Homo sapiens: one gene and its partner. The protein of the gene in region 1 interacts with the protein of each later gene in a pairwise test. Each region holds a gene or a part of one and is shown on either strand. Other genes may lie near its edges. The genes, in order: FAM221B and LCE2C.

The links.
Region 2: the proteins of FAM221B (region 1) and LCE2C interact in binary tests that used the Homo sapiens proteins (3 or more experiments, as listed by UniProt).

What each region holds. Positions count from the first base shown.
Region 1 is NC_000009.12:35,818,001-35,827,419, reverse strand, and holds part of FAM221B (protein FAM221B), read left to right. Parts: intron 1-482; exon of another isoform or gene 483-628; intron 629-1,258; coding exon 1,259-1,856; coding exon of another isoform or gene 1,857-1,886; intron 1,887-2,046; coding exon 2,047-2,190; intron 2,191-5,791; exon of another isoform or gene 5,792-5,978; coding exon of another isoform or gene 5,979-5,982; intron 5,983-7,419; coding exon 7,420-7,530; intron 7,531-8,025; coding exon 8,026-8,223; intron 8,224-8,410; coding exon 8,411-8,530; coding exon of another isoform or gene 8,531-8,574; exon of another isoform or gene 8,575-8,913; coding exon 8,914-8,951; coding exon of another isoform or gene 8,952-8,973; 3' UTR 8,974-9,419.
Region 2 is NC_000001.11:152,665,913-152,681,663, reverse strand, and holds LCE2C (late cornified envelope protein 2C), read right to left. Parts: upstream 6,386-15,751; 5' UTR 6,336-6,385; intron 5,670-6,335; 5' UTR 5,649-5,669; coding exon 5,316-5,648; 3' UTR 5,095-5,315; downstream 1-5,094. UniProt on the Homo sapiens protein: Precursors of the cornified envelope of the stratum.

The DNA of each region.
Region 1 (9,419 bases):
TAAAAGCATCAGATTAGGCTCATTGTAAAAGTATAAGTTACATAAATCCATGAAAGAATGGGTGAATGGATTAAAATGCTGTGGATGGAAGTAGAGGGGCAAAGTTATTACACAAAGGCTGAAGATGATGAGAACTTGAATAAAATTGGAAGGGAGAGGAGAGAATGCATTTGGGGAATATTTAGAAGATAGGAAATAGAGTTATTGGTGCCTATTTGAAGATGGAGTCTAAGGGAAAAGGAAAAGACTAGGATAATTCCCAAAGTTCAGTTTTGCTGTCTGTGGAAACACTCAGTTAGAAATGACCAGCAGGGGCCAAGCACGGTGGCTCACTCCTGTAATCTCAGCACTTTGGGAGGCCAAGCAGGGCAGATCACCTGAGGTCAGGAGTTCAAGACCAGCCTGACCAACATGGTGAAACCCCGTCTCTACTAAAAATATAAAACTTAGCCGGGCATGGTGGCACACGCCTGTAATTCCAGCTACTTGGGAGGCTGAGGCAGGAGAATCACTTGAACCCGGGAGGCGGAGGTTGCAGTGAACCGAGATTGCGCCACTGCACTCCAGTCTGGGCAACAGAGCGAGACTCCATCACAAAAAGAGAAGAGAAGAGAAGGCCAGCAGGCAGGTGGGTATGAGTGTGAAGTACAGAGGTTGAAAAAGGTCTGAGCTAGAAATGTGAATTTAGGAGTCATTGGTACACAACTGGAAGTAGTTAAAGCTTTGAACATGAATGACATCATTAAGGGAGGAGGATGTGTGTGGTGCCTAGACAAAACCAGGCTGCGTGCAGTGTCTTGCCTTATGTGACAGCATTCCCCTGCACTCTCAGGAGCCAACCCCAACTTTGGCTTGGTATTGCCAGTCTCTAGAACTCCATGGTCTGACCTCCAGGGTTTTAAGATATGCCAAGGACCCTGCTCTTGGACTGCCCAAGTGGTGTTGTTCAGACTCCCTCCTGGGACATGGTTCTCTGCTACCATCTACTGATGGGATTCGAACTACTTCAGTCTTTCAATCTTTAAGTTCCAGCTCCCTAACAAGCCACAGCAGCATGCCATATGAGGTCTGGACACATGGGTGAACCTTTTGGCATCACACTCTAGGACCCAGAGTTCATGTTGTTTCCCTCTTATATCTCAGCTGCACTGATATCCTTATCCAAATTCCATAATGCACTGCGAACCCTGGGCTCTGCCCTGACTTGCCGGCCCTCTATTTCCAACCTAATGAAGCCTGTACCCTGTTCTACCACTAGATGGAAGCACATGAGATCATAGAAGAGCCTCATATCACCATGGATGCAGAGAAGCACCCCCCTTCAAAGGACCCCTCTGCTGAGGACTTACAGGAGAACCATATCTCTGAAAGCTTCTTGAAGCCTTCCACCTCTGAGACCCCGTTAGAGCCCCATACCTCTGAATCCCCTTTGGTGCCATCCCCTTCCCAGATCCCCTTAGAGGCCCATTCCCCTGAAACCCATCAGGAGCCTTCCATCTCTGAGACTCCTTCAGAGACCCCTACCTATGAGGCTTCATTGGATAGTCCCATCTCAGTGGTGCCAGAGAAACACCTTACTCTTCCTCCCCAATCACGAGACTATGTCTGTCTGTCTTCTTCTGATACTCTGAAGGAAGACCTCTCCTCTGAGTCTTCTTCCAATGAGGTCCCATGGACAAGGAGGTCTACCCATCTCTCTGAATCTGAGAGCCTTCCAGAACACTGTCTTTCAGGCCCTTCATCCCAGGTCCAAGTGGACACAACCGAAAAGCAGGAGGAAGAAGCAGGAGAGGTTGAAAAGGGAGTAGATGCCAGTGACAGCACTGCTCACACAGCCCAACCTGGACACCAACTAGGCAAGAAGAAGAAGAAGAAAGGAGTTAGCTGTAATTGTACCTGTCCTCTCCCCTGTCCTGTTCTCACTACTATTCACTGTCCTTGACTTGCCCCAGGAGGAGGAGACTGGGTTACTCTTGGACATGGCCCCTTCTCTTAGTTTTAGGGCCTTCTCACTTCCCCCTGGTTACTCATCCTCTCCCATCCTAGGTAACACAGCCCGCCCAGTGTTCCCTGCTAGGCAGACAGAGCTGGTGGAAGTGGCTAAGGCAATGCATAGAGAGGAGTTTGGTGCTCAAGTGAACAATCTTTTCCAGTGGGAGAAGGATGCAGCCCTGAATGCCATCCAGACAGGTGAGCCCATGTGGCCTTTCAGAGGCCTGTGACAGGCCCATGGGCATCCTCTAATCCAAAAGATCTGGGAACCTGAACATTCAGCAGATAGCTTCCCCTTTTGGAAATGGCTATACCACCTGCCTGGAAAAGGAGCAGGCAAGTGGGCCAAGGAATACAAGGGTGGATGCAGACAAAAAGTGGGGAGATTCATATAAAGCCCAGGTAGAGACAGGTAGCTGAACTAAAATTATTAAACACAGAAGGGTCGGCTGGGCGCGGTGGCTCACGCCTGTAATCCCAGCACTTTGGGAGGCCGAGATGGGCGGATCACGAGGTCAGGAGATCGAGACTGTCCTGGGTAACACGATGAAACCCCGTCTCTACTGAAAATACAAAAAATTAGCCGGGCGTGGTGGCAGGTGCCTGTAGTCCCAGCTACTCGGGAGGCTGAGGCAGGAGAATGGCGTGAACCCGGGAGGTGGAGCTTGCAGTGAGCCGAGATTGCGCCACTGCACTCCAGCCTGGGCAACAGAGCGAGACTCCGTCTCAAAAAAAAAAAAAAACCAAAAAACAAAAAACAAAAAAAAACAGAAGGGTCATGGCCCACCCCAGATATAGGGCCCAGAGAGCCTACAGACCCTAAAGCAGAGATGGCCCAGGACCCTGGACAGTCCCCAGGAGACTTGCTGTTCTGACATGACAAAGACCTTAGTCCCTTTGGTGGAACTCCATTAAAAGGCTGTCACCCCTGCATGCCAGGCCCATGCTGGGTACCCAAAAGCTTTGAGTTCTGTTACCAAAGGGGAGACCTGTGTCCTCTGGCCCTGCTGTTTCCAAGCCTCAGCCTGTGATTAGTACTCTTGACAGTCCTGTTAGTGGCATGCTGCGTACAGATGAACTTGCAAAAACATGCCATCCTATGCATGAGCATGCCTACCTGTGTTATGGAAATTCATGTCTATAGGGATTACCTTCAGTAAGAGGGCCACCCTGACCTGCTATAAGGATTCTGGTCTTTCTAGACTGAATTCAATAGATGTTATGACATTTATTTTGGTCCTTCATACTTCCTTTCCCTTTATGATGGGAATAGAGCTACGATGACAGGCCTAAAACATAAAGACAAGCAGGTAATTCTAAATGCTTATCCCTCCTCCATGAAATTTACTTTCCCCTTTCCCATGCAGGGACCCTCCACCTCCCCACCCTTGCCCTCCCGCCCCACCACCAACTTTGTTTGCTTATGTTAACATATTCGGTTACTCTTATTTTCTTGCAAATTCTGGCTGGCAAGGTGGCTCACATCTGTAATCCCAAAACTTTGGGAGGCTGAGGCAGGAGGATCACTTAATTGCCCAGGAGTTAGACAGTGAGGACAAGACAGTGAGACCCTATCTCTACAAAAATAAAATAAAATAATCCAGACATAGTGGTGCACACCTGTGGCCCCAGCTACTTAGTAGGCTGAGGTGGGCAGATTACTTGAGCCCAGGAGGTCAAGGCTGCAGTGAGCCGTGATTGTGCCAGTGTATTCCAGCCTGGGTGACAGAATGTCTCAAAAAAAAAAATGCAGGATGTGTTCAGTCCTCTTATTCCCCTACTCAGAACCTCCTGTCTACTCCCTACTCCTCAAGCCCACTGTATTTCTTTTTCTTCTTCAAATTGAACTTCTTCATCTTCCTGTTTAAACAGGAAGTTTTATAAAGAAATTCATGTCATTCAACCCCGAACAATTATATTTGAGGTCCCCTCCTAATAGTGGGGATGTTGAGTCCTGGGTAGTCCATAACAGTATATGTGATGTGTACAGAAATATCAAGTGTAACCTTTGTTTTTATTCATTCGACAAACATTTATTGAGCACCAACTATGTGCCAGGCATTGAGCTAGCTATGGAAGTGGTAATGCTGATGGGGGTTCAAAGACAAAATACTTGGCACTCTAATGAGAGATACCAATAAGTACAAGGACAATTATAATTCACTCTAATAATTGCTATAATCAAGGTTATCCTAGACTGCTGCATGAGCAGAAAAAAAAGGGGCATCTTATCTGGAGTGCTTGAGGAATAGTAAGCCTTGGAAGGAATGACTTCTCAGCTGATATCTGTAAGATGAGTAAGAAGAGGTGGCCAAGTAAAGAGTGCTGTAAGATGAGACATGACAGGGCAAGGCACAGCAGGAATCTATAGCAATGCACTATGCCTGATGCATAGAGTGGTGGGGAGAAGAGCCCACTCTGCTCTAGAAGGGCAGAATTGTGCAGGAATTTCTGTGCCAAGTTAAAAGCTAGAATTATATCCTGAGGGCAACTGAGAGTCACTAGAAGGTTTTAAGTAGGACAATAACATGAACGAATTTCTGTTTCTGCAAGATCACTCTGGCAATAGGGTAGACTGGAGAAAGACAAGACTGGAGTTGTGAGGCTAAGAGAGGAGGTATGGAAAGGCAAGTGAATACATTGTGAGGCACTGGTCATAACCAGGAAAGAAGTAGATGGGCTTAGGTGGAGAGAAGTGGACAGGTTCAAGAAATGCTAACAGGCCGAGCGCAGCGGCTACCACCTGTAATCCCAGCACTTTGGGAGGCCAAGGGGTGGATCACCTGAGGCTAGGAGCTCGAGACCAGCCTGGACAACATGGTGAAACCCCGTCTCTATTAAAAATACAAAAAATTAGCCGGGTGTGGTGGCGGACACCTGTAATCCCAGCTACTTGGGAGGCTGAGGCAGGAGAATTGCTTGAACCCAGGAGGTGGAGGTTGCAGTGAGCCGAGGTTGCACCACTGCACTCCAGCCTAGGCAACAGAGCGAGACTCTGTCAAAAAAGAAAGAAAAGAAACAAGAAAAGTAGGGAAAAGAAAAGAAAAGCTAACAAAGTGAAACTGACCATTGGAACAGTGGATGTATAGGATAAGAGAGAGGGAAATGCCTGGAGTGCCACCAGTTTTTGGCATAAGTAAGTGGTAGGATAATGGTGCCATTAACTGAATGCCTAGAAAAGGGTAGATGCTTGGTAGGCATGTGTTGGATGAACAGAGGACAAAGGATGAGAGCCAGGTTTGGAGGGAATAATTGGGCATAAGACATTTGAAGTGCTTATGAAACATGCTGGCCCAAGAGTCTAGTAGACAGCTGGCTATATGGGTCTGAAGCTCAGGAGAGAGGGCTAGGCTGGAGACATTGTTCCTGTAAAGACAGCCATGTGTTTTATGGAGACATACTATGCATAAAGAGATGTCATCATGCAAATGTGATTATGTGATTGTGGAACTGGACTGTGTTAGACAGAATCAAAATGGCATCCCAAATAATGTCTCCTCCCCCGCCAGGCCTTGTCCACCCACAACAGGAAGGGAGTTTGGAATCAGGACAGAGAGTAGAGGGTCCCACTGGAATCCACAGCCACCTTCCAATTGTCCCACTTTAAGAGCACTAACACTTGTAACAGAATCTGAAGTATAGTTGCCAGTCTCCCTGTTCAAACTCCAGTCTTCTTCATCTGAATGCTGGGCACTGATTCCTACACTAGTGCTTGGACTTGACTGCCCCCCGGCCCTCCGAGCAGGCCTTGATCTTTGGGCCTCACCTCCTGCTTTTTTAATGTATCCTGCTACTCCAGACAGAATTCGGAACTCCTCTAGTGGAATCCTGGCTCCCGCCCACCTGCATTGTGACTGCCTATACCTTGCTCTCTCAACAAAGCCTCCCTGGTGTAAGGGGGCACTGGCACTACAGGCAATCAGCATCAAGACAGAAGAAGCAAAGCCAAAAGCCACATCTAGACAGGCTTTAGATCCTGACAGACTATGGGTAAGACAAGAAAACTTAATCTGAGGCACGGAATTGTGAATTGTGGCCCTGACCACAGTCAAAGACCAGATGATGCCACTCTCCTTATTCATGTTATGGAACCTCAGGGTTATGCCTGAATACTGGCTCTCTCTTCCTCTTGAAGGAATGAGCTCAATTGTTTAATCAGGCAATCTACGTTCTCTCAGCAACCATTTTGTGCCAGGCCTTGTGCTAGGATGAGAGATACGGGTGAAAAGACAGCTCCCTTGAAGAACTCATGGACTAATAGGAATACAAGGGAATGATCTATTATAATGCAGTGTACTGCAACAGGAGTAGCACAAGGAGCTATGGATGGCAATAGGAGGGGCCCAGACAGACAGGGGAAGTCAGGGACACCTTTTTGGTGGAGGTGACATTTCAGTTGAGCCTTTAATTGGGACTAAGAATCCTACACCTGGCAGTCCCACTGCATGGGGCCTCATACAGGATTCTTGGCTAGAAGTTGGGGTACTCTCAGTTCTCATGGAGAATGAGAAAATCTGAATTGGAGGTGCCATCTGGTTATCCTCCCTCAGTTGCACAGCACCACCCTCACCTCAAGACTAGTCACGAAGCCAGGGATTCAGACCTCACTGCTGAACACCAGCTCTCGAGGGTTGTGACCTCTTGCTGGTGCCTACTCTCAGGGACACTTCTTAGCCTCACTTTCCTTTCCACGCCTCCTTGCTTAGCCTCAAAATATATAATTTTTGGTCTTCACCACTCATGACTGCTACCTACCCCTTTCTCCTGACCCTTGAAGAACCTTTGGCAGCCCTTCTTAGGTACACAGAGAGCATTGGTACAATAGCACCAGGAACACAGAGGGAGGTATTAAGGTACCAACGTGGAGACGTGAGAGGAAGCCCTCCTCCTACCTTCCAGCACCAGAGCTATCCAACCTCCTTCTCCTCTTCAGGACCTTCAATAAATATGCTCCTTAGGAGCCAATCCCATTGTCTGTACATCTGGCCAATCATCTTCCCTTTCCCTCACCTTAGACACTTCAAGAAAACAAAGCAAAGTTGGGCTTTAGTGGGATGAGGAGAGGAGATGAGAATCCCTGTGGTCACAGAGAACTCAGTGAGATTCATGTTCATCCTCAAACAAAATTTCATCTATAATCTTCCTGCTCAGAAACCACTCTCTTGAGTCATCTCTGGCAGGCTGACAAAGATGGAGTAGATCCTGGGTAGGAAGAGAACTGAAGACACTTCTGGGGTAATGAGAAAACCCTGAGGAAAAAGAAAATCTAAGGGGTAGAGGTGAGGACTTCCAGGTGGAGATAAAGATACCTGGGGGTGGGGAGAGGTAAGTTCCCCCCACCCCCTCACCTCCATCAAGGGATAGGTAAGAACACTTCGGGGGAGCTTAGAATTTTTTTACTTCTCACTTTTAATCCTGCATACCTAGGTCTCTACATTGGCTGGCGCTGCCCCCATTACCTATGGGACTGTTTCCGGATTGGGGATGAGTCCAGATGCTTTTGTGGACACTTGTTGAGAGAGCACCGGATCATCTCAGGTAGGGGAGAACTGACCAGCCCCTCTCGAGTGTGGAGGAATAACTGTACTCTGTCATGTCTTGGGAAGTATGAGAGAGAGCATGTGGCTGGGCACGGTGGCTCACCCCTGTAATCCCAGCACTTTGGGAGGCGGAGGCGGGTGGATCAAAGGTCAGGAGATCGAGACCATCCTGGCTAACACAGTGAAACACCGTCTCTACTAAAAAATAAATAAATAAATACAAAAAATTTAGCCAGGCATGGTGGCACGCACCTGTAGTCCCAGCTACTCAGGAGGCTGAGGCAGGAGAGTCACTTGAAGCCAGGAGGCGGAAGTTGCAGTGAACTGAGATCATGCCACTGCACTCCAGCCTGGGCGACAGAGCAAAACTCCATCTCAAAAAAAAAAAAAGCATGTCTGCGTGCATAGGGGGTGGTGGGGATGGAGGATGGGGTTGGCATGAGAAGGCAAGGTCCTATCAGATTAACCCTACCATCCATCCCCAATCCCACAGACATATCGGTGCCCTGCAAGGTAAGCCAGTGCCGCTGCTTCATGTTCTGCTTTATCCCATCACGCCCAGAGGAGGTGGGTGAGTTCTGGCTCAAGAGACGGGCCACCTTTGACCCCAAGGCCTGGAGGGCCCAATGTCGCTGCAAACACAGCCACGAAGAACATGCAGCCACTGGGCCCCATCCCTGCAGGCATCATGGTAACTTCTAGGGCAAGAGGTGTATTGGGAGCAGGGTAGGTGGGGATAGGATGCAATCTGGGGATAATGATGGAGAGCAGGTATGAGAGCCTTGGGCATGCGGTCACTGAGGAAGAGATGAGAATGTGGTCAGCTCCTGGGGATACCACCATTTCCTAAACTCTTCTTGGCTGCACTTTTGCCCCAGGCTGTTGCTGCGGCTGTTTTGAGTCTAATTTCCTCTGTGCGGCCTGTGACCGGCGCTGGGAGGAACACGAGACTTTCTTTGACACCCAGAAGACCCGGCAACGAGGAGGAAGGCCTCGCGGTGAGGCAGAAACCTGGGACAGGGGGCCATTCCAGGGTCTGTAGTCAGAAGGCCAGGCAGGAAGGCACTCCCATCCTCAACCATCCCTTCCAGGACTAGCGCGCTCCCTCAGCCCACCTCCCCACCACCCACCTACCTGCATCCCACATCTGCACTGGTTTTCACCCCCAGGAGCAGACTATGTACCTTTTGCAGAGATGGCTGTGCTCCGAGAAGCCATCCTCAGCAACTCTGACTTCTAGGCCCTGCAGATACAGGGGCCCTCTGGCCTTCCCAGCTCCCACCCTAGTCCCCCGGGGCTCCCTGGTTCACACGGTCTCCAGCCTGGCCTCCCTTCTGACCCCCATACCTGACCCTTTCACCTCTGCTCTTTCTTCCTCCAGGGACAGACACTGTCAGCAACTGGCACAGGCCTTTGTGAGTCTGGCCCAGATCAGCAATAAAAGAGGAGTCATTGGAACCTGACTTGGCTCTATATGGGGCAGGTAGATCCCAGCCCAGGGAGAGACTGCCTAATAACTTAGAGTTGACACCTATTAGACACAGGAGAAAGCCTGGATCTGGCCATCTGCCTCCATCACACTCACATTCAAGCTGCCTGTTGAAGGAAAGTGGCTTCAAGGAAGTCAAGAAGGGAGGAAGTTTCAAGAAGGATAGAGTGGGAAGTGATGTTAGATGCAGTTGGGGCACCAATAAGATAAAGACTGAAAAGTGTCCATTGGGTTTTGCAATTAGAAGATCTTTGGGAACATCGGAGAGTGCAGTTTCACACTGGTGCAGTGGAGGCAGGAGTCAAACAGCAGTGAGTTTCAAGGAGTCTCTTAAAGAAGCTTGGATGAAAAGTACAAAAGTAAAGTCAGACAATATCCAGAGGGAGTTGTGGAGTCAA
Region 2 (15,751 bases), on another chromosome or scaffold:
GGTTGAGTGGAGTTGTGCTTTTGGGTCAAATGCCTCCGTGTGTGTGTGTGTGTGTGTGTGTGTGTGTGTGTGTGTATACATGCATACATACATGTGTGTACAATGATAAAAATAACAGAAAGTAATATAATAACTGATGTTTACTGACCATCTATTTTTTTCTAGGTATTATTTAAGTGTTTTATACACATTATCTCATTTAATCCTCATACTAATCATGTGATGTAGGTGGTATTAATATTCCCACTGTACTAATGAGAAAACAAAGGCTCCTAGAGCTAAACAAATAGCCCAAGTTCACACAGCTGGGAATAAAGTTCAGAAAATTTAACCAAAAAAATTTCAATTATTTTAGTATAATGTCAACAGGTTTCTGACAACAAGTTTACACACAGCATAGATACACTACCATACACACACACACACACACACACACACACACTCACACACACAATGTCAGACCATCTGTCTAGTCCAGATTGTCAATTATTTTGTTTGGTGGGATGAATTTTCCAGATAATTTATAACTATGCTTTCTAAATCCCTCTCCCATACCAATTCCCTGCCAACATTGTCTGTGTACCTCTCTTATATGCAATATCTATGCACTTACTTCTTAATCAAAACCAAGACTGAACCCATCGTTTTTCATGACCCAGACAGCACTATTTATAGGCTATCATGGGAGAAAATTATGTTAATTACATATGATCACTACACACACACACCAACACCCTCACTGCCTATGTCCATTTATATCCAGTATTTCTTTCTAATCATTGGAATTAGAAGAATGTCAGTGTTAGATGAATAGTGCACATTAATTAAATATTCTATTTGCAATCACTGCATATCCATGCCTTAGGATTCCCTGGAGCAAGGAACTTTTCCAAGAATTCTGTGCTGAGCAAATTAGGTAACTATTAAGCAGTTCTTACAAGAGTAAATGAGAGAAGGATATGATCAGATGAATTAAAAGAAAAGAACATCTCTAAAGAGAAAACAATTTGAGGATTTTCTTGGACTGTCTCCCATTAGTAAATTCAATAATCAGAGTTTATTAATTCACTCTTATACACACTCAGCAAGTATTGTTGACTATGTGGCCAACTCTGGGGATACTACATGATATGAAAGGAATATAATATCTGCCCACTGTGACTATATTCTTCAGAAAGGAGGGAGGGACGTGGATGAAGAGGGCATGAGAAATAGAGGCTCATTTTATGCAGTGTGGGAACTAACACAGAAACATTAGTATATCAGGCAAGAAAAGAAGGGAATAGCTGTTTTAAGTCTAGCTTGTTGAGAAGAACTTACCATAAGCTGTTTGAATTTCACACACAGTAAATAGTGCATGCCTTCCCAGTTTAACTCCAGAGAACTTGTTGAGACCACAGAATGTAGTTAAATCACCTAGATTTGGATTCTGAGAACAAGTTACTTGCCTTAAAGCCTTAGAAATGTGCCCGAAATTGTCTGTGCATCTGTCTTTTCATCTATGAAGTGTGGAAAATAGCTGTAATTTCCTAACAGCAATATTGTGTGAATTAATTGTTATTTTGGTTGAGTTACACCTGAAACACTTATAAGAGTGCATATCTTATAACTAGCACAAAAGTTTAGAATTACATAGTTTTACTCTTTCTGTACATAGTTCTGAATTAGGTGTGAAGATGGAGCAATGCAACCAGCGTGGGGGTGGACTAGGATTGAAATCTGACCTAGCAAGGTCAAGGAGCAACCATGAAATGGTAACATGGGGAATTTCTTTCTGAATATTAGTGGGTTTGCCAATTATTTACAAGCAGAAGGAGAATTGTTTAGAAAATGAAAAGTAGCCTTATTCTAGTTTACACATGTGTTCTGTTCAGCTGAATTCACTTCCAGCTGAACTCATGTTAAGATATCCTGCCAACTGAGCCAGCAACAGTAAGAGTCCCTCCAAGAGCCGGCCAATATGCTGGTCCCTCAGGCTCTGGAGTTTTTCTTAGCACTGGGGTTAGTGTTGGTCCTGCTCTGGGAGCAGCTGCTCCTGGAGTTAGCACAGGCAAAACACAGTCAGCAGACCTTGGCTGCAGAGCTGTTGCAGCAGCAGCGACAGAGCCTGGAGAGTCAGTGAGAGAGCAGCGTCGCAGCTCTCGGGCACTGCTGTGGATCTCAGAGGGTCCGAGTTGAGATAACCACACACACAAGCATCCATCCTGGCCCAAAACTCCTTTCTACTCTACCCTATTCCTGGGCTGACCCTCTGGGGACTCAAGAGGGTGACCAGGTAGAATTTTTCATTCGATGTGGAGGTGAAAGTGCTCTCTGGGGATTCTGGCCCAGGTGACAATCTATCCACCTTTTCCTTTTCACAATGTGTTCTGGTTACTGTTGACTCTCCTCACTTGGGTCATATTTCAGATAACCCAGAGTTAATCATCTGTCACCCTCCCACTCTAGATACCTTTGAAAGAGATGCAGCCATAACACCAAGTATGGTTTCTGATTGGACAGCACACTTCTTCTCAGAGCCTCACCCTCCTCCTGCCCTTGAGAGATGATCCAGACCCCTGATCCTTGGCCCACTTCTGGGTGATGGGTGGATTAGAGGTGGGGAGACAGGAGGCAGAAGTAACCTGGAGCCTCCGCCAGGCTTCCATAAGCCAGGTCTTGTGCCTGTCTCCAGGGAGCCCCCCAGAGCACTCCAGACCTCAGCTGCAGGCAGTGAATTCCCCTGCCTAATCAACCTTCCAGGCAGATTTGCCTCAGTGCATACAGCAGAGACCATAAAGGTGGAAACGTGGGCAGGACGTTCCTGAATGTTGCATTAAGAGGTAAGTGAAGTGTACCCAGAGAGTCTGTGTCGCTATTTCCAGAAACCAGCAATCCAGCTGTCTTTACTCAGCAGGTTGAACTATATCAAGAACTACTTGATTGGATGTGTACGCAATGTGCGTGCTCCACTTCATTCTTAACTTACATCTTTAAATTTTGTCCAGAACCACACCATGTCCAGATATCAAAATTTATACTTCTCTATCCCTTCTGTACATACAAGCAGCCAGTGAGATTTAGGAAATTGTTGGGACTTTAGGAAAGCTCAGGTAAGAGGCTCTATTGGGATCAGGACCTTTCACCCACCCTTTCTCTTTCTTCAGACCTGAAGTACAGCGTTGCAGATCAGAACTCCATCAGGCATCTTGAGATCACCAACTGTTTCTCAGGAAATAAGCACTAATAATGAAATGACAAGACAGAGGGGTATCCATCTCTGAATACTCCAGGGAACCACCATACCAGCCATGGACTACTGACCTCTGACTTAATCACATGTGAGTGGAAATAGCCTGCTCTCCTCTTTAAATTGCTGTGATTTTGAGTTCCTGTGATAGTAGCAGAACTTAATTTCTAACACACATGCACACATGCCAAACATAAGATAAGATGCAAGTAAAAACCAATAGTCAGATTGGAAATTATTCTGTGTATGGAAGTTTAGATAAGGAAAGGATTATGTTCACCATGAAAGGAGCACATGGAGCCCCAGATAGCAGGCCCACTGGAGAAGGAAAGGGCCGGTGAGTTGCTCTTACTTAAGGCAGAGGTCCCTGAAAGCATACTCGGGTGTCCACCCCTCCGCAGGCCAGCCTTCACCTGCCCCAGGCAACCTTAGGTCCCCCGCTTGGTGTTCCATTTTATACTGTTTGGGTTTTTTTATTTGTTTTGTTTGCTGACATGTAAACACTAAGGACAAGGAAAAACTTCTTAACCAACTCAGGAAACCCTGAAGCTATGAAAGCAAAGAAAGTCATATTTGAGTATTTAAAAACTACAAATATTTCCATAGCAAAAGTTATTATAAACAGAGTCAATTAATTATGATGTATTAAATATTTTAATAAAGACAGATCAAGGTTAATATCCATGATATATCAAGAGCTCTTGAAAATTGAAAAGAAAATTTAAAATCCTATTACAAATTTTGTAGAAATAGCCAATGTACATATTTATGGAAGCTCAAAATTACTACTGGTCAGGGACTTGAAAATTAGTTAATAATGAGACTGGCAAAATAATAAAGAGCATTGAGTCAAATAAACTGACTCAGTGCAGAGGGTGATTTAAAATGCAGACAGTACAGAATCTCAAACTGGTTAATCAGCTGGGTTTTTGTCTTAGTGGCACTAAGGGTAAGTAAGAAGGTAAACATATTAATAAGAGGCTCCATCTCTGTCAAAATCCGTCTTTGCTGAATCCATTATCTTCATGTCGACACCTGTCAGCCTGAACCTAAGAAGCACTAGCCCTTGTTTCCCCTGCTGTGTCCCTGCTTCCCTCCCCTTCCTCTAGTAATACTTAAGATGCCCCACCCATCCTGGCGCTTCTCCCCCCTCACATTCTGAGGGTGGCTTGGCAAAAAAGATAAGTATTGAAGGAGGAAAGGTCTATTCTTTCATACAGCGTTTTGTATTCTTTGTATTCTTATGTTCCTTATATTCTTTGTATCTTCTAAGCAACACTTCCATGTTTTTTCACTTAATATCTCCATCACTCATCACTCCCCTGCCCAGCACGTGAGCCAAGTGGCAGGACAGCATCCTGGGACTCAGATCTAACACTGTGAGGAACTGAAGCCAGGTGTCCAAGGCAGCAAGTCAAAAGGCTGATCTTAACCAGACTCATGAAAAGAAGCTGAGTGACCATGGGCTGTACTTTACAGGAGGAAGGGTCTCAACATCTGTTTCAAGCATTTTATCCAACTATTGATTCTAAGGGCAGGAAAGTTTTGCTTCATAGGGATGTGTTCTTCTCCCTAGAGAAGAACAAGTCTGCAGAGCTTCCCAACCTTCCCAACGTCTGGATTACACAGAAAATTAGAACATGTGTCTGGCTTAGTGGAGAGAAAGGCAAAGCTACCATAGCCAGAGGTGACCCTCTTGGAGCTCCATTCACTCAGCATCTGGGGGAATCAGTTCCTCAGAGCAGCTTTTCATGTATCACCTACTCATGTCCTGTCCTAGCCTCATGAAGAAAATTACTCTGAGGCCCTGACCTTTGGAGGACATTTGAAATCTCAGAAGAGAAGAGAATGACCAAGACATTTAGTGAGTCAGAGATCAGAGCTTTATTATAACATGAGGTAAAGGAGGAAAAGAAGACTTGCAATTGGGGTGTTACATCAAGCACGAAGTTCTTCCAGGAAAGCCCCATGAGTCTTTGTGGTCTCTGCCAACCAATGAATGGAATGAGAGGAAGTGGAAAGAGTATCCATCAGGCCGTAGCAGGTTCTTGGCCATTCAGTCCCAAGAGCTCTTCTGTAGCCCAGGTCAGCAGCAGCCCCCAGAGCTGTGGCAGCAGCCAGAGCCCCCAGAAGGTTCACTCTCACAGCAGTCGGGGCTCTGGTGCCGGCGCCGGTGGAAGAGACGGGGCCTGTGGTGGCTCAGGGAGCAGCCACCAGCCCCAGAGCTGCAGCAGCCCCCAGAGCTGGGACCACAGCAGCTCCCAGAGCTGGGACCACAGCAAGAAGAGACTGCAGGGAAACATGGAGCTGGGCACTGTGGTGGGCATTTGGGGGGACACTTAGGTGGACATTTTGGGGTACACTTGGGAGGACACTTGGGAGGGGGCTGGCACTGCTGCTGGTTTTGCTGGCAAGACATGCTGGCAGGAGTTTAGTCAACCTGAAAGATAATAATGAAACTCTTTAAATATTTCAAACCAAGGATCATATTATACCTCTTCTAAAATCAATGCATGTGTAGAAGAAGAATGATATTTAGATAATACAATCACATCAGTAACCTGAAAGAAACAACTTGAATCTTTCCTCTAGATAAAAGTACGTAGATAAAAAATCAACAGAATGAGCTTCTTACTCTTCCTTTCAGGGGAAACTGCGATTGCTCTATCCTCACAAGCCCGAATAGAGTATTCACAGCTCCCTGAAGTACCTATTCCTTTAATACAAGCCCTAAGGACAAGCTGGGTGTTGCAGGACATACCAAGGGGTCCTCTGGAAAATATTTTGCAATGAAACCTCCAGATAAAAGAGCCTGGCTTGAAGTATTTGCCAGTTTCCATGGTGTAAATATGCCCAACACAGCAGTTTTGAAGTTACCAACATGAAGTCACTGAACACAGAATTGGAAAAGATGTGCACAGTTAGCTTTCCCCACCTATATGAGCTCCGGTAGGCCTCAGAGCCTCAACAGATTCGAGGCAGGCTGAGTCCCATTCCTGCTCAGTATGGCAGAACACAAGCACACAACTCTTTCTCCAGCCTACCTCCATCCTCCCCATCCCTCTGCCTTGCTCATACCCCTCTGGTATCCCAGGTTGCCACTCACCCTGGTCACACGCAGGAGCACAGACACGTCCCTGGGGAGTCAGAGCAGATGAGATGCTGAAGCTGGATGTGTCTTTTATAGGGCCCAGGCTTGGCTCTGGAAAGAGCAGGAGGTGGCTCTTGCACAACCAGGCACACGCTGGGTCATTCCTGACATTCTCCTGCCTCTTAGTCCCTGCAATCCAAAGAGGCCTCAGGAGCTTCCAGGACTCCTCTCTGGGGCTGCAGTCTAGAGAGGCTGTAGCCAGTCAGAGCCTCCACCAGGTGGGAACCCTAAAGAGTTAACTTAGGGTACCCAAGGGACCCACACCTGGACAAGATTCTGTTCCCTGCATTTTTTTAATGCATGTCCTCTGAGGAAACATCAGTTCTGAGCCACAGCTTTCCCTGACCTTGTGGAAATGTTCCATTATGACTCCCTCCACCCTGAGCAGTTTCTCTTCCATGTCCTGCTGTGGATCCAGCCATCCCAGAGGGCTTCTACAGCCTTGGCTTTTTCTAGGCATCCCTCCCTTGCCTAGGCTCTCAGCCCTTCCTCCTGGCCTCTGTGTTTCTGCTTTTCCTCCGACTCACCATGGCAAGCAGATTCGGTGGATTAAATCTGAGTTGATTCTGTCACCTAAAGCAAGGAGAATGATTGAGAATAAACAATTCCCTCTAAAATCTAAACATTTCCTTCAGTCAGAGGACTTGTATTGAATGTGCTACTGGAATCAGAAAACTTGCATATGATAACTGGGTAATCTCTGAAAGTTGCTGTAACAATTATCAATAATTGCTAGAGTATTACTATGATACTCACTGTGAGTATCAGTTCTCACATATAATGCCCATTATAAACCTATCAGTGAGATATACCTATCTCACTGAGCTGTTTGTAATATAAAGTGAGAAGCAAGAAAGAGCTAAGTATGACATTTTGTGCCTGATAGACCCTTAATAAATATATGTTTAATAGAAAAACTAATGCCATGTATTGGATACTTGCCCCGGTCTTATGTGTCATTAATTGCCCATATAGAGCCCTTACCCTCAGAGAGCTTAACTCCACCAGACACTTAGATTATTTGAAACCTGTCTTGGGAAGTAGACATCATTTCTTGGGGCTCCTATGCAGAGGGAACTCCTTTCCTACCAGGAAGTAGAGGGTCAGCCAGGAATCTAGTTATTCAGAGTTCTGATTCAGGGTTGCACTAGACAGAGTTACCCAGTCATTTATTCATTTAGTTTAAACAGATACATTGAGTGTGAACCTTGAAAACATTACACTACGTGAAAGAAGCCAGTCACAAAAGACTGCATATTGTATGATGTTATTTATATGAAATGTGTAGAGTAGGCAAATCTCTGGAAATAGAAAGGGGATGAGGCTTTAGCCAGTTACAGCCTCTCCCAGGCTGGACCCCTGAAGAGCTGACTCAGGGCATCCGAGGAACAAGAGCCTGGATGAGATTCTGTTCCCTGTATCTCCTTTTATGTTTATGCCTGTCCTCTGAGAAATATCAGTGGCTTCCAGGTGCTTTAGCGGGCTGGGAGATATTGAGAAGTTACTGCCAATGGATACAGGTTTTCTTTGTGAAGTAATGAAAATGTTCTAAAATTATGGTGGTGATTGTCCAACTCTGTGAATATACTGAAAACCATTGAATTTACACTTTAAACAAATGAACTACAAATATGTTAATTACATCTCAATAAAGGTGTTAAAAATTAGAATTGAAAAAAATAGATATTCACACCTCTGATTAAAACAGAAACAGACTGTGCCTTCACATTGCCTAATGCCTACTTAGTGGGGGAGGGGAGGATGCGGAGAAAGCATAGTTTCCCATTGTCAGCTTCTAACTGAGGGATTCTGTTCTCCTAGTTATGCAATCCTATTATCAGATCTGATTCCTGCTCTCAGGAAGCTTTTACCTGAAGGATAAAGTAAGTCAACAGTGTGGTCAGAGCAGTGAATTCAAAAGGCATTCTTTGAAAGCCTACAACGTTCTTGAATCATGTATGTCCAAATATAGGGATATAGAGGTGAATAATAAGTAGCCCATGACCTCAAGGACTGTAGAATTTTTGTAGCCTTTTTGAAGATGACTGCAGACAAACATAGGTCCAAAGAAGATGACGTTTGGGGCCTGAACCTCCTGAGTCACTATTTCCCAGTGTGATTAGAACATGTTAGTTCATTCCACTGTCTTCATGGTGATATCACCCTCAGCTTCCTCATACTCTTTGACAAAGATATTTGTAACAATGTGGTAAGTGAGGAAGTAGGGGAGGCAAGTCTGTGTCTGTGTGTGTGTGTATGTGGGTGTGTGCTCTGTATGTGTGTATGTTGTATTTATACAAAAATTCAGGTAAAATGAACATGCACATACATGAGCGTCTGTATTGAGTGGTTGAATAAGCGATGGAAGAATTAATGGGACCCGATCCCCTGGGAAACCAGAACTGGGAGATAAGCAGCTGTTTAACATGTCCCCTTTGTCCCTTTATATCTCAGAAAATGTTGATAATTAGTTCACAAGTCAGTGAAGAAACACCTGCCTGCAAGTATTCTTGCTTCTGTCTCCACAGCCCTCACATCATCATAGGTGATCCCTCTGAGCCAGAAGACCCCATGTCACATTGTGCATGTTCCCTCAGGGACCAGCCAAACACTTAATTGTCTCATGAGTGTTGGCAGAATCAATGCATGATTGCAGGACCACATGAACAAGTACACAGGTGACATGAAAAGAATGGCCTGGGATTGATTCCAGACATTTCATCTGAAGTTCACCTCATCTGGAAAGTCAGTCTCCTGAAAGCTGATATTTCCAAGTAGCTCCTTGAATTGTCTCCCTGGGAACTTAAACTCCGTATATTCCAGAAAATTATCCCCCACCAAATGCTGGAACTTTATTTTAGCCACAGTACAAGAAAAAGCCTTACCATGTCCCTTGATGTATCTCATCTTATTTAGTAGATTCACTAATCCAAATTTTCCGTTTACTATATCTTTGTAGTCCTTTTCATCTTCTTGTCAACACTGTCTGGCACTGTCTGATTTTGGCCCAGTTTCCACTCCTGAAAGGGTATGTGTGGAGATAAGGGTTTATTGAATTGTAATTTCCAAAAAGTTAAAAGCATGACTCATATAAATATATAGCAGGCATATTATAAAGATTTGTTTCACTTGTTAATAAGAGAATCAGCATGATGGTAATGCTGGTTCAAAGAATAGGAGAGACCAAAAAAATTCTGGAACAAGATTGCAAATTTAGATACAAAACTGGTTAAAGTTTTCAAAGGCAATGAAACCATTAGGTTAAATTTTCTAGAGCACACAAAATAATTTTCAACTTACAAATCTTCTATAATTTAAATCTAGCTTTACAGTGTCTGGGCCTTGATCAATACCAAATACATTAAGTAAAATCATGCCACCATTTTTTTTAAAAACCTAGAGAGTCATATACACCTTAGGCAAGGTTGTTAGTTACTAGGAAGAAGTAAAAATTTAAAAGACTAATCAGAAATCACTTTTTTGCTTAATTTTAAGTTTTGGATAAGTTTAACCCCCAATTTCCTAACAAGAGATGGTTTCTCAGAAACTGGGGCTTCAAAACCCAGGTCCAGAATGGGTTCTTGCTGAAGTCATATTGGCTGATGGACATCAGAGGGGCATGAATTCCAGGCAGAGAGCTGCTGGAGAATTCACGTGTCGTGGTCCTGCTAGAGCTGGGACTCACTTCAGATCTTGGTATTAGCATAGCTTATAAGAGATGTCCCAACACTGCCCCGCATCTGTTTTGCCTCATCTGGGACATGCCATTTTCCTTGCCTGGTTACCAGGGTGAGTTTGCCAGGGGGAGCCATCAAACTGGCTCTCAGCAGAACCATATGGGAGTCTTAAGAGCAACACCGGGAGTATGGAATATGAAAGGAGAAGACGGCCCAGTGATAGGGAGGAGCACAGCAGAGGGGTGTCCTGGGCAAAGCAAGAATTGGCCTGTCTAGTTTGTACATACATGTTTATATGACCTGAAGAGGATGGATTTTATACTTAATTCATCAATTCCATGATACACTCTTCTTACATTTTTTAACAGCCCTTAAATCAGTGTATACCATATGAATGGTGGCATGTAATAGTTGAATTTGCAAAATTTTTATTTCCTTGTGGTGCATGAAATAAGGGTGCCCCTTACAACTGATAGCCTCTTTACGCTCATGAAATATAGTAGGTAGTAAATGGGTCTGTAGATATGAAATGAAATGATGAGAGACAGAAATTGACATTGATTTAGCATTAGTTCTGTTTTCAGAAATGTCACTTCTAACACTTTTAACTTGGGGTTATATGGTTCTTCATAGGTACTATTAGATACTAATGTATTTTATAAACTGTCTGCCAGCACACCATGAATAGGTTTAAAAGGGCAAAATTATGCCCATATTGGCTCTAATTTATCTGACTTATTGCTCGATTCATTTTCAAACTCAGATACCTTGCCAAAACACCACCAGTAATGCCAATGCCTTTAAAGAGCCCTTCACAGTGCCACTCCAGTGCACAGCCCATGTTCACCTCCAGTTCTTCTTGTGTGACTGACCCCGCATGGGAAGCAGCTACAGCTTCATCAGCTCCCAGAGTTCCAGCTACCGTGCAGTGGTCAGCAGCCTTGTCTGTGCTGTACTGACTACACCTCTGTGGAACCAAAGTGCAAAGGCCAAGGGCCTCCCCAGCCACATGCTGCACTCCCTCCCTCCAGTCCTCCTAACATCACAGCCTTGTTGAGACTCATGGGGTTACCAGGTAGAAGGTTCTGTTTTCCCAATATTCTCCAAAGGTCTGTCCAGAAATTTGCCTTTATCCTAAGTGAAAATAAAACCATCATGGCATGTTCTTAGTGTGTCCTGGTCACTGCTGACCCTCTTCTGTCAACAGAAGACCTCTTCTGTCTGTTGGATCATATCTCTAATGACCTCCATGTATCCTCTCAGTCTCTGTGATGGTTAATTTTGCCTAGGCTATCCTATGATATCCAGTTGTTGATCAAACACCAGTCCAGATGTTGCTTTGTATGCATGTAATCAGTAGACTGACTAGGTTGATTATCTTTCCTAACGTGAGCCTCATCCTATCAGCTGAAGCCTTTAATAGCAGAGACTGAGGTTTCCAAAGAAGAAGAAATTATCATCAACACTGCCATATAGAAACTCTGCCTGTTTCCAGACTACTGCCTTGCAGAATTTAGACTCAAGGCTGCAACATCAACTGTTACCTGAATTTCCAGCCTGCTGGCCTGCATAATCATCACAATTATCATGCGATGATTGTGGGGTCTGGCAAGATTTCAGACTTGCCAGCCCCCACAGTCATCACATTAGCCAATCTCCTAATATAAACTTATCCCTCCATCTCTTCTATTTCTCTGGAAATCTCTAACTAAAACAGTTCTCCTTACCTCCATGTCTTCCCCTGAGGTATACATTGAGTGGAACTGTACTTTTGGGTCAACTGCCTCCATATGTATATATACATATATACACACACATCTGTACAAATGATAAAAATAACAAAATGTAATATAATAACTGATGCTTATTGACCACCTATTTTGTTCTAGGTCCTATTTAATTGTTTTATATACATTATCTCATTTAATCCTCATGCCAATTCTGTGATGTAGGTAGTATTAATATCCCCACTATACTAATGAGAAAACAAAGACTCCTAGGACTAAACAAATAGCCCAACTTCACACAGCTGGGAATAAAGTTCAGAAAATTTAACCAAAAAAGATTTTGAGAACTTTAGTATAAGGTCAGCAGGTTTCTGAGAACAAATTTACACACAGCTTAGATACAGTACCATACACACACACACACACACACACACACACACACACACACAATGTCAGACCAACTGTTTGGTCCAGATAGCCAATTATTTTGTTTGGTGGGATGAATTTTCCAGATTATTTATAACTATGCTTTCTAAATCTCTCTCTCATACCAAGTTCCTGACAAACTCATTGTCCATGTAACCTCTCTTTTATGCAATATCTGTGCACTTACTTCCCAATCAAAACAAAGACAGAACCTATAGTTTTTCATGACCCAGACAGCACTATTTATAGGTTATCACGGGATAAAACTATGTTAATTACATATGATCCCTTCACACACATACACCAGTGCCCACACTGCCTATGCCCATTTGTATCCAGTATTTATATCATTTTAATCACTAGAATTAGAAAAATTTTAGTGTTATATGAATAGGTTACATTAATCAAATATTATAATTGCAATCACTGTCTATCCATGCCTTGGGATTCCCTGGAGCAAGGAACTATTTCCAAAGACTCAGTACTGAGCAAATTAGGTAAACATTAGACAGCCTTATGAGAGTAAATGAGAGAAGGATATGATCAGGTGAATTAAAAGAACAGAACATCACTAAAGAGAAAAAAAAACTGAGGATTTTTTGGGACTGTCTTCCATTAGTAAGTTCAATATTCAGAGTTCAAAAATCACTCTCACACACACTCAGCATGTATTGTTGACTATGTAGCAAACTCTGGAGTACAACATGATATAAAAGAAATATAATCTCTGCCCACTGTGACTATATTCTTCAGAAAGGACAGAGGGACATGGGTGAAGAGAAAGGTATGAGAAATCGAGATTTCTTTTGTGCAGTATGGGAACTAGCCCAGAAACATTAGTATACCAGGCAGGAAAATTAGGGGATAGCTGCTTTAAGTCTAGCTTGTTGAGAAGATCTTACCATAAGCTGTTTCAATTTCACACATGGTAAATAATGCAGGCCTTTCCAGTTTAACTCCAGAGAACTGGTTCAGATCACAGACTAAGTAGCTATATCACCTAGAGTTATATTCTGAGTACCAGGTACTTGCCTTAGAACCCTAGAAATGTTCTCAAAGTTGTCTGTACCTCTGTTTTCTCATCTATGAAGTGTGGAAAATAACTGTAATTACCTAATAGCAACATTGTGTGAATTAATTGATCCTTTGGTTGAGTTACACATAAAACACTTATAAGAGTACGTATCTTATAACAAGCACAAAAGTTTAGAATTACCTAATTCTACAATTACTGTACAGAGTTCTGAATTAGGTGTGCAGCTGCAGCAATGCAACCAGCATGGGGGTTGACTAGGATTGAAATCTGACCTAGCAAGACCAAAGAGCAACCATGAAATGGTAACACGGGGAATGTCTTTCTAAATATTAATGGCTTTGCCAATTAATTAGAAGCAGAGGGATAATTGTTTAGAAAAAGCAAAGGTATCCTTATTCTAGGTTTACACATGTGGTCTACTGCTGAATTCACTCTCAGCTTAACTCATGTTGAGATATCCTGAAAACTGAGCCAGCAGCAGGCTTCCTCCCAAGAGCCTGGCAATATGCTCATCCCTCAGTCTCAAGTTTTTCTTAGCACTGGAGATACTGTTCTTCCTACTCTGGGAGCAGCTGCTCCTGGAGTTAGCATGGGCACCACAGAGCCAGCTGACTTTAACTGCAGAGCTGCTGCAGCAGCAGCGACAGAGCCTGGGGAGTCTGTGAGAGAGCAGCGCCGCAGCTCTCGGGCACTGCTATGAAATCTCAGAGGGTCCGAGTTGAGATAACCACACACTCAAGAATCCATCCTGGCCCAAAACTCCTTTTCTACTCTTCCCTCTTCCTGGGATGACCCTTTGGGGACACAAGAGAGTGACCAGGTAGAATTTTCACTCGATGTGGAGGTGAAAGTGCTCTGTGGGGATTCTGGCCCAGGTGACAATACATCTACATTTTCCTTTTCATAATATGTTCTGGTTACTGTTGACTATCCTCACTTGGGTCATATTTCAGATAACCCAACTCAGAGTTAATCATCTGTCACCCTCCAACTCTAGATACCTTTGAAAGAGATGAAGCCATAACACCAAATATGTTTTCTTCTTGCACACTTCTCAGAGTCTCACCCTCTTCCTGCCCTTGAGAGATGATCCAGACCCCTGGTTCTTGGCCCACAGCTGGGTGATGGATGGATTAGAGATGGGGAGACAGGCAGAAGTAACTCTTAGCCTACCCCAGGCATCCATAAGCCAGGTCTTGTGCCTGTCTGCAGGGAGCTCCCCACAGCACTCCAGACCTCAGCCTCACCAGGGAATTCCCCTGCCTAATCAACCTTCCATGCAGGCTTGCCTCAGTGCATACAGCAGAGCCCATGGAGGTGGAACTGTGGGCAGGATGTTCCTGAATGTTTGTGTTAAGAGGTAATTGAAGTGCACTCAGAGAGTCTGTGTCACTATTTCGAGATAACCAGCAATCCAGCTGTCTTTACTCAGCAGGTCAAACTGTATAGAAAATTACTTAATTGGATAGTGCCCAACATACATGCCCCCTTCATTCTTAACTTATATCTTTAAATTTTGACCAGAACCAAATCATGTTCAGATATCAAAATTTACACTTCTCCATCCCCCTTGTATGTACAAGCAGCCAGTGAGATTCAGGAAATTGTTGGGACTTTAGGAAAGCTCAGGTAAGAGGCTTTACTGGGGTCAGGGCCTTTTACCCACCCTTTCTCCTTCTTCCTACCTGAAGCACAGCCTTGCAGATCAGAACTCTATCAGGCACCTCGAGATCACCAACTACCTCCCAGGAAACAACTGCTAACAATGAATTGACAAGACATAGGGGTATCCATCTTTGAAGACTCCAGGGAACCACCGTACCAGCCATGGACCACTGACCTCTGACTTCATCATATGTGAGTGGAAATAGTCTGCTTTCCTTTTTAAATTGCTGTAATTTTGAGTTCCTCTGATAGCATCCGAACATAATTTTCTAACACACCTGCACACATGCCAAACACAAAGTAAGATGCAGCTAAAAACAAATGTTAGAATGGATAAAGAAAATATGGCACATATGCACCATGGAATACTATGCAGCCATAAAAAAGGATGAGTTCATGTCCTTTGGGGGGACATGGATGAATCTGGAAACCATTATTCTCAGCAAACTAACACAGGAACAGAAAACCAAACACTGCATGTTCACAATCATAAGTGTGAGTTGAAAAATGAGAACACATGGACACATGGAGGGGAACATCACACACCAGGGCCTGTCAGTGGGTAGGGGGCTAGGGGAGGGATAGCATTAGCAGAGATACCTAATGTAGTTGACAGGTTGATGGGTGCAGCAAACCACCATGGCACGTGTATACCTATGTAACAAACCTGCACGTTCTGCACATGTATCCCAGAACTTAAAGCATAATTTAAAACAAAAAAAGTTAGATGGGAAATTATTCTGTGTATGGAGGGTTAGATAGAGAAAGGAAGTTGCTCACTATGAAAGGAGCACATGGAGGCCCAGATAGCAGGCCCACTGGGGAAGGGAATGGCCGGTG